Linked DNA regions of Homo sapiens. The protein of the gene in region 1 purifies or fractionates together with the protein of each later gene. This does not show direct contact. Each region holds a gene or a part of one and is shown in the gene's direction. Other genes may lie near its edges.

Region 1 (4,382 bases):
AAACGTAAAAGTAATATTTATTTATTTATTTATTTATGAGATGAAGTCTCCCACTGTCGCCCAGGTCGGAGAGCAGCGGCGCTATCTCGCCTCACTGCAACCTTCAACTCCAAGGTTCAAGCGATTCTCCTGCCTCAACCTCCCGAGTAGCGGGGACCACAGGCACGCGCCACGAGACCCGGGTAATTTTTTTTTGTATTTTTAGTAGAGATGGGGGGGGGTTCACTATGTTGGCCAGGCTGGTCTCGAACTCCTGACCTCAGGCGATCCGCCCGCCTCAGCCTCTCAAAATGCTGGGATTACAGACGTGAGCCACCTCGCCCGGCCAAAAGTAATCTTTTCTTTTTTCTTTTGACAGGGAGTCTCGCTCTGTCGCCAGGCTGGAGTGCAGTGGCGCCATCTCGGCTCACTGCAACCTCCGCCTCCCGGGTTCAGGTGATCCTCCTTCCTCAGCCTCCGGAGTAGCTGGGATTACAGGCGCCCGCCACCACGCCCGGCCAATTTTTGTATTTTTAGTAGAGACGACGTTTTACCACGTTGGCCATACCAGGCTGGTCTCAAGCTCCTGACCTCGTGATGCGCCGGCCTCGGCCTCCCAAAGTGTTGAGATTACAGGCGTGAGCCACCGGGCCCGGCCCAAAAGTAATCTCTAAAGAGCCCTTTAGCCGTAACTTCATTCCTGAAAATTATTTGGGAAAGTAACGCTAGGAAAACGCTCGACGAAGCTCCGGAGCCGGGGGTCCTCGGGGCCGCAGGCGCGCCCGCGGGTGTCTGCTCCGGATGTCCCGCGGCAGCCCCGACGCCAGCCTGGATACGAAGGCCCCGCCCCGGAGCGCGCCACCAGCCAATCAGCGCCCTGAGGCGAGTCCTCACCCCGCGCGGCGGCCCCGCCCCCCGCAGCTCCGGGCCCAGCTGTCAGAGCAGCTTTCCCTCAGGCTGGGCGGAGCGTGGCCACTTCCGCCAGGAGGCGCCTTTGTGTCTTCTAAGTTAAGCCTATTCAGTGGATTTCTTATTCCTGGAACCCAAACCTGGGCAGTAAACCCTCCGGGGCTTAGAGGCCGCTGCCTCCACAGACTGGCCGATCCCGCCCTGAAGTGCCGCTGGTGGAACAGCCCGGGCGGAACCGCCCGGGCGGAACCAACGGGCTGCCGCGGGGGGTGGGGCCACGGTCCCCCCCCTTCTGCCTTCAGTGGAACGGCCCCGGCGGAACCAACGGGCCACGGGGATGCACTACGCGCACCGTCGTCCTCTCCCTCTGCCTGCAGTGGAACGGCCCGGGCGGAACCAACGTGCGGCCGCCCGGAGCACTCGGCGCGCCGTGTCCCTCCCCGTGTGGCTGCACTGCAACGGCCCGGGCTGGACCACCAGGCGGCAGCGGAGAGGCACTTAAAAGCCCCGTGTTACCCTAGACCTTAAAAAAAAAAAAAAAACTGCGTGTTTCCACCCCCGTCGGCCTGCAGTGGAAGGGCCCGAGCAGAACCAACGGGGGAGGGGACGCTGAGCGCGCCGTGTTTCTCCTCCCGTCTGCCTGGAGTAGAACGGCCCGGGCGGAACCAACGGGCAGCCGCGGGGGCGTTGTGGGCCGCGGCGCGTTTCCCCGGCTCCGTGGCTCTGGGGCACTGAGGAGCGGCGCCCGCGGGGCAGCGAGGAGCCCGATGCAGGGTTCTGCGCGTCATTTCCGGTCCCGCGGGCGCCCCGTGAAGCCCACCTGGATCCGCCAGCGCTGTGCCACTCCCCAGTGCCGAGCTCCGAGCTGTCTCCGCGGCCTCGCGCCCGGCCCCTCCACCGCGCGCCTCTCAGGCCCCGCCCGCCAGCGTCCCTTTGTTGTGAAGGCGCCGGGGCCTAGCGCTATGCCTGCGGCGGAGACTGCATCAGGCTCTCGGTGGGTTCTGCGTGCGGGGTGCTCTGCTCGGTGATCGGTGCTGGGTGCTGCGTGCTCGGTGCTCGGTGCTGGGTGCTGGGTGCCGGTACTGATGCTGAGTGTGCGGGCGTCCGGGGTTTCCCTGCCCGGATTCGCTCCTGGGGGTCCTTTCCTATGGCTGGCGCTGTGCGCGGAAAACGCTGGTGGGGTTTTCCCAGCTGGCTTTAAGCGTTTTCACGTCCGGGAGTCCACGGCGACCCCCACGCCCTGAAGCCTGGGAACGCGGTGTGCGTGGCCGCAAAAAGAACAACAACAACAAAAAAACACAAAACAAAACACGCAAAAAACTAAAGCAAAACTCCCGACAGCCGAGCCCCGTTCGGTGCCTTTTCTTTTTTTTTTTCTTTAATGGAGTGAAATCTACTTTGCTCAGGAAGCCTGCAAATCACATTTTCAGGCCAAACGAGGCAGTATTTTAGAAGGGGTCGCTGAGGCAGGAGTAGGAAGGCTTTCCACTCCACTCACGCATTTTCAGTGTAGGCGAATCGTAAAACGGAGGGCAGAACGAAAATGAGCGGATCTGGGAGTGCAGGCTGCGCTTCGTCCACATCGATAACAGATGTTTCCTGGTGAAGATGTGTAGGGCGCAGCGGGTCACCTGGTCGGGGGAGGGCACAGGGCGTCCCTCCACGGGGTGCCTTTGGCGTTGGGCACTTGTGTGGTCTCCAGCTTCCGGGTTTTGGAAGCGGAGTGTCCCCTGCAGCCTGAGCCTCTTGCAGGTGGTTTCCTTGGGACGAACTCCCAGGGGGAGGTCTGAGTTCTGGGGCATGGTTTGAAGATTTGGGACACATTTTGCCTGAAATTCCCTGCTGGCCGTTTGAACCCACCTGGACTTCCTGACCAGGGGCACGGATTCTTAACCTCTGGTGCAGGGGCCTGGCTAGGAGAGGTCTGCACAGTTGGACGAGGTGCAAAGTGACGCTTTGTCAGTAACCCGGCGTTGAGATTCCTGTGGTGGGACGAGCAGCTCCTATGGCTTTATCCCATTTTAAATCCAAGTTTTCTTTTCCTTCTAGTCCTCGGGCTCCACCCGGGGAGCTGTGCCCAGACAGCAGAAGGGAAGGATGTCACTTCTGAGATGAGGTTCAGAAAGGTCTGGGCTCCTGTCCTGGCTGCTCTCTCCCACTCCCTGATGAGCTTGCTGGATGAAAGCTCCTGTCAGGCTGTGGGGCGTCCTGTGGAGAAGCTGGCAAGAAACTGGTGGGGGCCCTTTCCACCTATAGCCAGCAAGGAACTGAACCCAGCCAGCGTCCACCTGAGTGAGCTCAGAGGTGGGCCTCAGCCCCAGTTGAGCCTTCGGATGAGGTCACAGCCCTGGTCCATGGTGTGACTGCAGCTTCAGGAGGGACCTTAAGCCAGAGGTGCCTGGCTAAGCTTCCCGCAGATTGCTGCCCCACAGGAGCCAACATCAAAAGCATTTGTTGTTTTGAGGTGGTAAGTGTGGAATGACTGTTACAGGGCAGTAGAGAAGGAGCATGCACCCTTCCTGCTTCTTATTTGCCTTTTAGAAATTGTCCTCTGTGAATCGCTTGAACCTGGGAGGTTGAGGTTGCAGTGAGCTGATATCTCACCACTGCACTCCAGCCTGGGCGACAGGAGCGAAACTCCTTCTCCAAAAACATAAATTCTTCTCTGTGAAATATGTTGTTTTGTTTTTTTTTTTTCTTTACTTTTTGAGACGGAGTCTTGCTGTGTCACCCAGGCTGGAGCAGGCGCAGTCTCAGCTCACTGCAACCTCCGCCTCCCAGGTTCAAGTGATTCTGCTGCCTCAGCCTCCTGCGTGGCTGGGATTACAGGCGCCTGCCACCACGCCTGGCTAATTTTTGTATTTTTGGTAGAGACGGAGTTTCATCATGTTGGCCAGGCTGGTCTCGAACTCCTGACCTCAGGTGATCTGCCCGCCTTGGCCTCCCAAAGTGCTGGGATTACAAGCATGAGCCACCATGCCCCGCCAACATTTTTTTTTTTTTGCCTGTTTTTCTACTTGGTTTGTAGGAATTCTTTATACTTTCTGGATATTAATCCTTTGCCATGTTGCAAGTATTTTTTCCCAGGTTGTGGCTGTTGATTTCACTTTATGGTATGTATATATATATATATATTTTTTTTTGTTTCTTTTTTTTTTTTTTGAGACAGAGTTTTGTTCTTATTGCCCAGGCTGTTGTGCAATGGCGCGATCTTGGCTCATCACAACCTCTGCCTCCCGTGTTCAAGTGATTCTCCTGCCTCAGCCTCCTGAGCAGCTGGGGTTAAAGGCATGTGCCACCATGCCGGCCAACTTTGTATTTTTAGTAGAGATGGGGTTTCTCCATGTTGGTCAGACTGATCTGGAACTCCCAACCTCAGGTGATCCACCCACCTCAGCCTCCCAAAGTGCTGGGATTACAGGCGTGAGCCAAGTCTGGCCTTTTTTTTTTTTTTTTGAGACAGGGTCTCACCCTGTTGCCCAGGCTGGAGTGCA
Region 2 (4,310 bases), on another chromosome or scaffold:
GGAAGGCTTTATTTTATTTTATTTTTTGAGACAGGGTCTTACTCTGTCACCCAGACTACAGTGCAGTGGCATGATCATGGCTCACTGCAGCCTCAACATCCTGCGGCTCAAGTGATCCTTCCACCTTAGCCTCCTAAGTAGTTGGGACCACAGGTATGTGCCACTACACCTGGCTTTTTAAAATTTTATTTATTTTTATTATTTTTATTTTTAGTAGACACAGGTCTTGCTACGTTGCCCAGGTTAGTCTTAAACTCCTGGGCTCAAGTGATTCTCCAGCCTCAGTCTCCCAAAGTGCTGAGATTACAGGTGTGAACCACTACACAGCCTTTGGAAGACTTTCCAAGAATGATAAGGGATCCGATTTTGGAAATGTGAAGCTGAAGATACAGAAGAAAATTCCAACTCTACTTACAGATAAAATTCTAATTTGGGGTTGGGCACAGTGGCTAACACCTGTAATCCCAGTGCTTTGGGAGGACGAGGTGGGAGGATAGCTTGAGGCTAGGAGTTCCAGACCAGTGTCCTGGTCAACACAGCGAGACCCCATGTCTACCACAAATAAATAAATAAATAATTTTCTCTGCAATTGGAGATATGAGTGGAGTCTCAAGAACGTTCTGGCTATAGATTGTTGACATAGGAGTTCAGTAGCTAAATACATCTATGGCAGGTATAAGAAGAGTAAGTGGTGGAGAAAGTTGTAAAAACAGGAGGGAAGATTAACTTCTGACCGTTGACGCCTTGGGGAATCACAGCTGGGCTTCAGACGATTCTTCAGTTCCTAGTGCTGGGGCTAGTGTCTATGAAATACGTTTTCCCCCTCCCTCCAGGCCTCCTAGGTAGTTAGGACTTTTCAATAACATTGGACATTGCCATATGCACATGAACACACTCAGTTTTAATTTCTCAGATTCTCCGCTTGCTGGCTTCTAAAACTGTTGTAAGAACTGTTATCTGGCTTCACAGGGTTGTGACAAGGCGGTGAAATGCTTTGAAAAGTGTCTATAGCTAAACAAACGTGAGGTACCGGCGCTCGCAACTTTTCCCCAGGAGATGTGCACCTCTATTTAGAGCGTAATGCCCAGACTATTTTCGTTGCTTTCCGTCCCCGCCCGCCTTCTGCCACGGACAGTTACAAACCTGGTCGATAATTATCCTGGGAGAACTCGACGTCCCAGCTAAGAACGCAGGTCAGAGATCAGAGATCAGAGACAGAAGGATCTTGGGGAGGAGCAGGGGCCGGGCATGACGTAGCAACTGGCAGCGCCGCCGATTGGCAGATGAGAAGGTTGTTCCCTCAGGGCGGCTGCTGATTGGCTACGGGAGGCAGAGGCGTGACGTCCTCAGAAGTTGAGCAAACACCTCCTACTTCCCGGCCTTCCATCCCAGTTTCTTCTAGGAATTCGGAGCCTCCCCTGCAGCGACTCGGAAGATTCGAGGCGGCGGGGGACAAGTCGGCGCCCCAGAGCGGACGAGGTGAGGAGAGGAGAGGTCCCCGCGGAGAGCTGAGCAGACGCGCGGGTGGGCTCAGCCTGTGAGATGCGGTGGAGATAGCGGGCCGGGCTCGGGCTGTCGCTGGGAGGGGCCCGCGAGCCTGGCCTTCGGGTCCCGGCGCCGCGAGGCGACCCCGGCCGGGCCGAGAGAGGGAGAAGGCGGCGAGCATTCGGGCCTCCCTGCGAGGAATGGAGGGAGAGCGGAAACGCAGAGAGTTTCACTGCGAGGAAGGGAGGGAGAGCGGTCAGCGCAGCTCCAGCATTTCTAAGTAGAAAGGCGAGGGATTGCAATTCGGATTTCTTTTCTTTCTTTTTTGGCGGACAGTGGTGGTGCTGTGGCTGGGGAATAAAGAACTGATGAAGCTGAGGAAACAACGGCTTGTTAATTTGTGGACGGCGTGCTTAGAGGGGACGGCTGGCTGAGGGGGCGGTGGATGGAGATTTCGGGGTGGTTCTTTCCCCCTTCCCTCCCCACGCCCAGCTTAGCCAAACTGATCACAAACTTCTCTCCTTGTCCATCTTGGGCTGCCCACTCTCCGAGACACAGACCCATTCTCCAGCAAGGATCGGAGATGGGTGGAAGTTGGGCGCCTTGCAAGTCTGGGTTTCCTGAACTCTTCAGCCCCTGCGGGACTATGCAGCCCATTGTGAGCGCTCGCGCGGGACGGGGCGCGGGGAGAAGCAGTTTACCCACCCTCCTCGGTTGAATGGGGCTGAATGTCTGTCTATCCTGACAGCTTCAGAAGAAGAAATGTGCTTTTCAGACATTGATTTCAGGGGAATGGGGGTGGGGGGAGCGGAAGAGAGAGAGAGAAAGAGCGCTCGAGCGCGAGAGAGAATGAATTAGTTCAGTAACTTGAACAAGGATTAACATTTTTTGATGTTGTGGGTTATCAGTGGGGAAGGTGCAGCTGTGAGATGTAGTTATACACAGGACGGAATGGTCCTTGACTGAAGCTGCGGCTTTCCAATACTGTATTAAAAAAAATCCCAAAACACTGATGGCACTTTGGTGTTTCTGGGTTTGTCTGTTTTGTCCCCTGCACTCCCCTCTTCTTTTTTTCCCATGAAGATGAGTGAATCTAGGGCTACATGACTTGACTGTGTAACCTGGTGGCCATTCTGCAAAATGAGTTAGGTGGACAAAAATTGAAGCCAATTTACCTGAATCATTTTCCCACTCTTCAGATAATCATATTTGTTATCAGTTTCACTTGTTATTGATGATGGCGTGATCAGAACTTTGGTTTATTTGTCATTGAATTTTTTTTCTCACTAGTCGTTTAACAGACCTTGGTTCGGAATTTTGGAAATGATCTTTGGTGTTTAAGAAGCCACCATTTAACAAAACATTTTCATTTTTTTCATATATTCTTTTATTAATTTTCTCATAGAAATAACATTACAAACAGTGGTAAGTTTTCTTGGGAAGGCTACAAAAGATTCTATGCAATTCATGAAATCATGGAAACAAACATTTGGAATGGAAAATAACCCCAAAACATTATTACCACATTCATCTGATCTAAGGTGTCATCTATTGTAAGATGCATCCCTATTTCACTGATGCTAAAATGTGTAAAAAAATTGTCTTAAATTTGATGAAATACAACATTAAAATGGTAATTTATTTATCTTGAACATGCATGCCTGAAGTTTGAAGTTGAAGAGAGGGCTTATTGGGCTCTAATTATTTTTTTTCCAAAATAATGTAAGGGTGGGGGATTAATATGGAGCCATCGTGAAGGTCTTACTACAGTGTGACAGAGGAAAGAAATGTGAGTCTACTGTTAGCGGCGTGGTTGTGCTCGCTTTTGAGGAGTAGGCAAGCCTGGAGGCTTTTTCTTTTCTTAAAATTTATTGTTTATGACACACAGCAATGCTCAGCACTTTATGCATATTAGCTCAATTAAACGTCTTAAGAGCCCTAAGAGGTAGAGGTTAATATGATTCTCATTTTGCGCATGATGCACAGACAGGTTAAGTTGCCAGCCAAGGTCACAGAGTAAGTTTGGCCGCTGAGGAACCCAGGAGAGAAACCAGTATTCCTTTGAGGTATCCATCTTCTGTTGCAAGCTCTTGGTTCCTGGTCCATGCTATTAATGCAGGTAGCTTAGGTGAATGTCCACTCTTTCTTGATTGTGTTTTTGGTATTTTGTTTCCCTGTTTGGTGTACTTTAGCTAGAAATTCATAAGTCAGAGTGCCTATTTATGTTCTACATTTCTAATGTTTTTGTAATTCTCAGTGTCCAGTTACTACTATGCTTAATAGAATCAGAATATCAGAGCCTGAAAGGGACTTTAGTATTATATTTTTGTCTGGGTAAGGAAACTGAAGTCAAGAGGAGGAACCCTACATCTAGTTATGTGTCCCAGCTCCCATGTCTAAGTTTTCCCACTATACTGTACTATATTTCACGACATTTGTTGATCTATGAGATCTTGGAAGAGAATCAAGTTTTTTTTTTTTTTTTTTTTTTTTTTTGCAGGGTTAGGGGGATGTGAGTCTCTTATTAATGTGTCTATTTTATCTGTTTGTTTGTTTGTTTGTTTTCTTGCTGCATAGGTCTTTATAATGTTTATTGAATTTGCTTTTTCATTTATTCATTCTTTCTTAAAACACTTGCTGTTTTCCCATGTGCCAGTCATTGGGAATACAGAGATGAGTAAAACACAACTCATACACATTTGCAGTTTAGCAAAGAGACAGACAAGTAAGCAGATAAGCATTTTGGACTAGACTCCGATTTAGAACTAACTTTGTATTCCATTTCAATGAAGCTAAAATTATAAGCTAGAGACCAGGAGAAATAT
Region 3 (3,645 bases), on another chromosome or scaffold:
GTGATAATTTTAAGTCAGAATTTCATAGAGTCTCTCTGAGATTTTCCCTCTCAGATAAGCCCAGTTAGACTTCCTTCCTCATCTAGGCAGGAAGCCTACCAGCAAACTATGTCCCGTTCATCCTCTTTCTTATGTCCTAAGCATAGAACTAGTAGCTGTAACCATCATTTAGGTTCAGATATTAGATTTTTTTCTCCCTGATAATTGTACATAATCTTTTTTTATTATACACATTTTGAACTATTCATAAAGGGCTTTGCAGACAGTGTAGTTATTGCCAGCAACCTTTATAAGGCCCACCTTGGCCTCCCGACGTGCTGGGATTACAGGCGTGAGCCACTGCGCCCAGCCTAGGTCAGGGCTTTTATCCATTACCCAAATAATGTACTTTGTACCCATTAAGTACTCTCTCATCATTCACCACCTCCTTCAACTCCCTAGTGCGAATACTTTAAAGTATGTTTTTTGAAGTAGTAATGGATTTGTGCACATCTGTGACTCACAGGCTCACTTTTCCCTTTGACTAGTGGCATAGGGACTAGCTGGCACTCAGTGTTATTTGTAGTCTTGTTACAGAATTATCTTGAAGAGTCATCTGGATTATCTGAGGATCAAACTCATCGGTTCTATGTTGATTTAACCAGATTACAGAAAAAAAGATTTTTCAAGACAAAAAGACAGTTCCAGTAGGTTTAATGACTTACCTCAAAGTTAATTAATGGCAGAGCAAGAAGATGAACTGTGATTTCCTGACTCCCCATTCAGTATTTCTTCTATGCTATGCTGCATGATGGCAGAAGTAGATTCCATCTTAAACTTTTAATCTGCTTATCTAGGGACTGTAATACAGCTGAAGGTCCTTTTTAGGGGCATAAAATTTCTAAAGGTGACATTCTGGTTATATCTCAATTTGGGAAATTCCATTTTGTCTCAGGTTCACCTTTGGGGCTTCTCCTCTTTTTTGATTAGTACACGGTCATAATGCATGGTATTTTCTTTGAGATATTCCAGCAAAACAAGACAAAAAATCTAGAATAATACATGAAACAAGACTGGGAAATGTTGAGAGTTGTTGAAGCTGAGTAATAGGTACATGGTTCATAATAATGTATTCAATCATTTTGCAAATTTTAGAAGTCCCTTTGTTGGACCTGAGAGGTATTTTAACTATGGATGTATTATTCCTTTGTTTATATTTGTGTCTCTGGGTTAAAGAAAAAAGTAAAACCAGCAGGTTAATATTTATGTTATCCTTACCGTCACTCCCACTGAGTCTAGGCTTAAATTCAAAAACAGTTTTCTCTTAGGCCATAGAGGGATCTGCCTTTTAATTCTGACCAAGCTGTTTTCCTTGCAACAGTAGCCAGAAGATTCAACCTTTAGCATAACATTTTCAAGGTGTTTGTTATGAATGTTAGGCTTTTCTAGGCCAAAAAAAGAGGAGTGCTTTTTACTTTATAAGAACAACAAAAGGACTTCAGTATTCTTTTAGACCTAACAATTTTAGCCAAAAATTTTGGAAGATGAGTCAGCATAATGTCTTCAGACAGTTCTTCAATTTGACTTCCTTCACTGCCACCACCTATGACCTTGGACAGATAACTGTATTTCCCTAACCTTCAATTAACTCCCTGTCTTCCTAAACTTCAGTGCCTCCATCCACAACATAGAAATTCTAATACATTGTGAGGTTGCTGTAAGTATTAAATTGGCAGAAAATGTAAGTCACCATTCACAGTGTTAAAATAAATTATAAATAAATAAACATTAGTTCCTTTCCCACCCATAACAGTAGAAGCTCTTAAAGATGGGGTTCTTGTTTCCTTTACTAACCTGTTTCCTTTTTTTTTAATGTACTTTTTTTCCTTACTTGATCTTTCTCCCTATTTCTTTTCACTTAGGGTCTGCATGCTGGGTAACCGCACCCTTTCATCAAGACACATTGACGTTTGCTCTAAGACCAAGGAAATTAACAACATGACAGTCCCATCAAAGTTATGGGGATTCTTCTGTAACTCGAGTCAATTTTTCAATGCCACCTGTGATGAATACTTTGTTCACAATAACGTCACTTCAATCCAGGGCATTCCTGGATTGGCTAGTGGTATAATTACAGGTAAGTTAGGGAGTTATTGGACAAGTTTTTTCCTATTTTCTGGGGAAAATAGGCCTTGTCATCTTAGATTCCTCTACTGTCCATAAAGATTCACTGCCATGGTGCTAATTCCCTTCTTAAGCACACCACACAGCTCTTAATTCACCATATTTCTGCTTTTCCATTAGTAAAGCTGTCCTTATTCAGTACTCCTTTACAGAGTGATGTCTGCTAAAATTCACCTCCATTTCAGAGCAGAGTTGAGCAAATCACTTTCTAACCTTACGGTAAAATATTCCGTGTATTCTTGTAAAATTGCCAATGTTCTTCCTGCACTGACAGAATAGACCTGTTTTAATGTCCACATCCACATGTATCTTCCTAACTTAGCTAAATTCCTGAAACATTCCTTAAGTGTCTTCTATTATAAATGTTTGGTCTATAAATTTCTTTGCACATAAGTAAGTTTACATTAAGGTGTTAGAAACAGCACTGATGACAAATAATAATGGGATTTGTGGGGCATTTAGTTTTAGTCTGTTTAACTTTTACTAATTTGCATTAGTAAAGTTAAACTATATTTGCATGTACCAAATCATTTTGTCAAATTATATTTAAATTAGATAAGAAAGAACATTATGTTTAGCTGGGCGCCGTGGGTTATGCCTGTAATCCTAGCACTTTGGGAGGCCTAGGTGGGAGGATCATGAGGTCAGGAGATCGAGACCATCCTGGCTAACATGGTGAAACCTCGTCTCTACTAAAAATATAAAAAATTAGCTGGGCGTGGTGGCAGGCGCCTGTAGTCCCAGCTACTCAGGATGCTGAGGCAGGAGAATGGCGTGAACCTGGGAGGCAGAGCTTGCAGTGAGCCAAGATTGTGCCACTGCACTCCAGCCTGGTGACAGAGTAAAACTCTGTCTCAAAAAACAAACAAACAAAAAAAAAACTATGTTTTTATTTATGTGTGTTTTATTGTGCAATGTGTGTGTATACATGTGCTCATGTAGAAGCAAACACACCTTTAGAAACTGTATAAATGAGGAGCCTGATTTTGAATGTTTGGGTAGAAAATTAATTATCTTTTTTTTTTCATACTGCTGCTGCTTAAATTCCCATTTTTCCCACTGCAGAGAATCTTTGGAGTAATTACCTACCCAAGGGAGAGATCATCGAAAAGCCTTCAGCCAAATCTTCTGATGTCTTAGGCAGCTTAAACCATGAATATGTTCTTGTTGACATCACCACCTCCTTCACGCTTCTGGTGGGAATCTTCTTTCCCTCTGTTACAGGTAAACACATAGGCTGTTGTATATTTTAGAAGCTGTCAGACCCACGGAGTGATTTTTCTCAGGAGGCAGAATTCTCAGGGTTCCTAGATTTGCTTCTACTCTTTGCTATCAGTATCAATATCAAAGTGTCCAAGAAGTTAACTTGGTTTTTTCCCCCTTATCTCTAAAGGTATCATGGCTGGATCAAACAGATCTGGAGATCTGAAAGATGCTCAGAAGTCTATTCCGATTGGTACTATCCTTGCCATCCTGACCACC

Evidence for each region.
Region 2: the proteins of SLC35E2B (region 1) and AASS purify together in Homo sapiens (affinity purification with mass spectrometry; one large-scale study listed by BioGRID and IntAct). This does not show direct contact.
Region 3: the proteins of SLC35E2B (region 1) and SLC12A6 purify together in Homo sapiens (affinity purification with mass spectrometry; one large-scale study listed by BioGRID and IntAct). This does not show direct contact.

Annotation. Positions count from the first base shown.
Region 1 is NC_000001.11:1,689,949-1,694,330, reverse strand, and holds the start of SLC35E2B (solute carrier family 35 member E2B), read left to right. Parts: upstream 1-1,535; 5' UTR 1,536-1,882; intron 1,883-2,937; 5' UTR 2,938-3,355; intron 3,356-4,382. UniProt on the Homo sapiens protein: Putative transporter.
Region 2 is NC_000007.14:122,141,330-122,145,639, reverse strand, and holds the start of AASS (alpha-aminoadipic semialdehyde synthase, mitochondrial), read left to right. Parts: upstream 1-1,390; 5' UTR 1,391-1,479; intron 1,480-4,310. UniProt on the Homo sapiens protein: Bifunctional enzyme that catalyzes the first two steps in lysine degradation.
Region 3 is NC_000015.10:34,250,641-34,254,285, reverse strand, and holds part of SLC12A6 (solute carrier family 12 member 6), read left to right. Parts: intron 1-1,901; coding exon 1,902-2,116; intron 2,117-3,228; coding exon 3,229-3,387; intron 3,388-3,556; coding exon 3,557-3,645.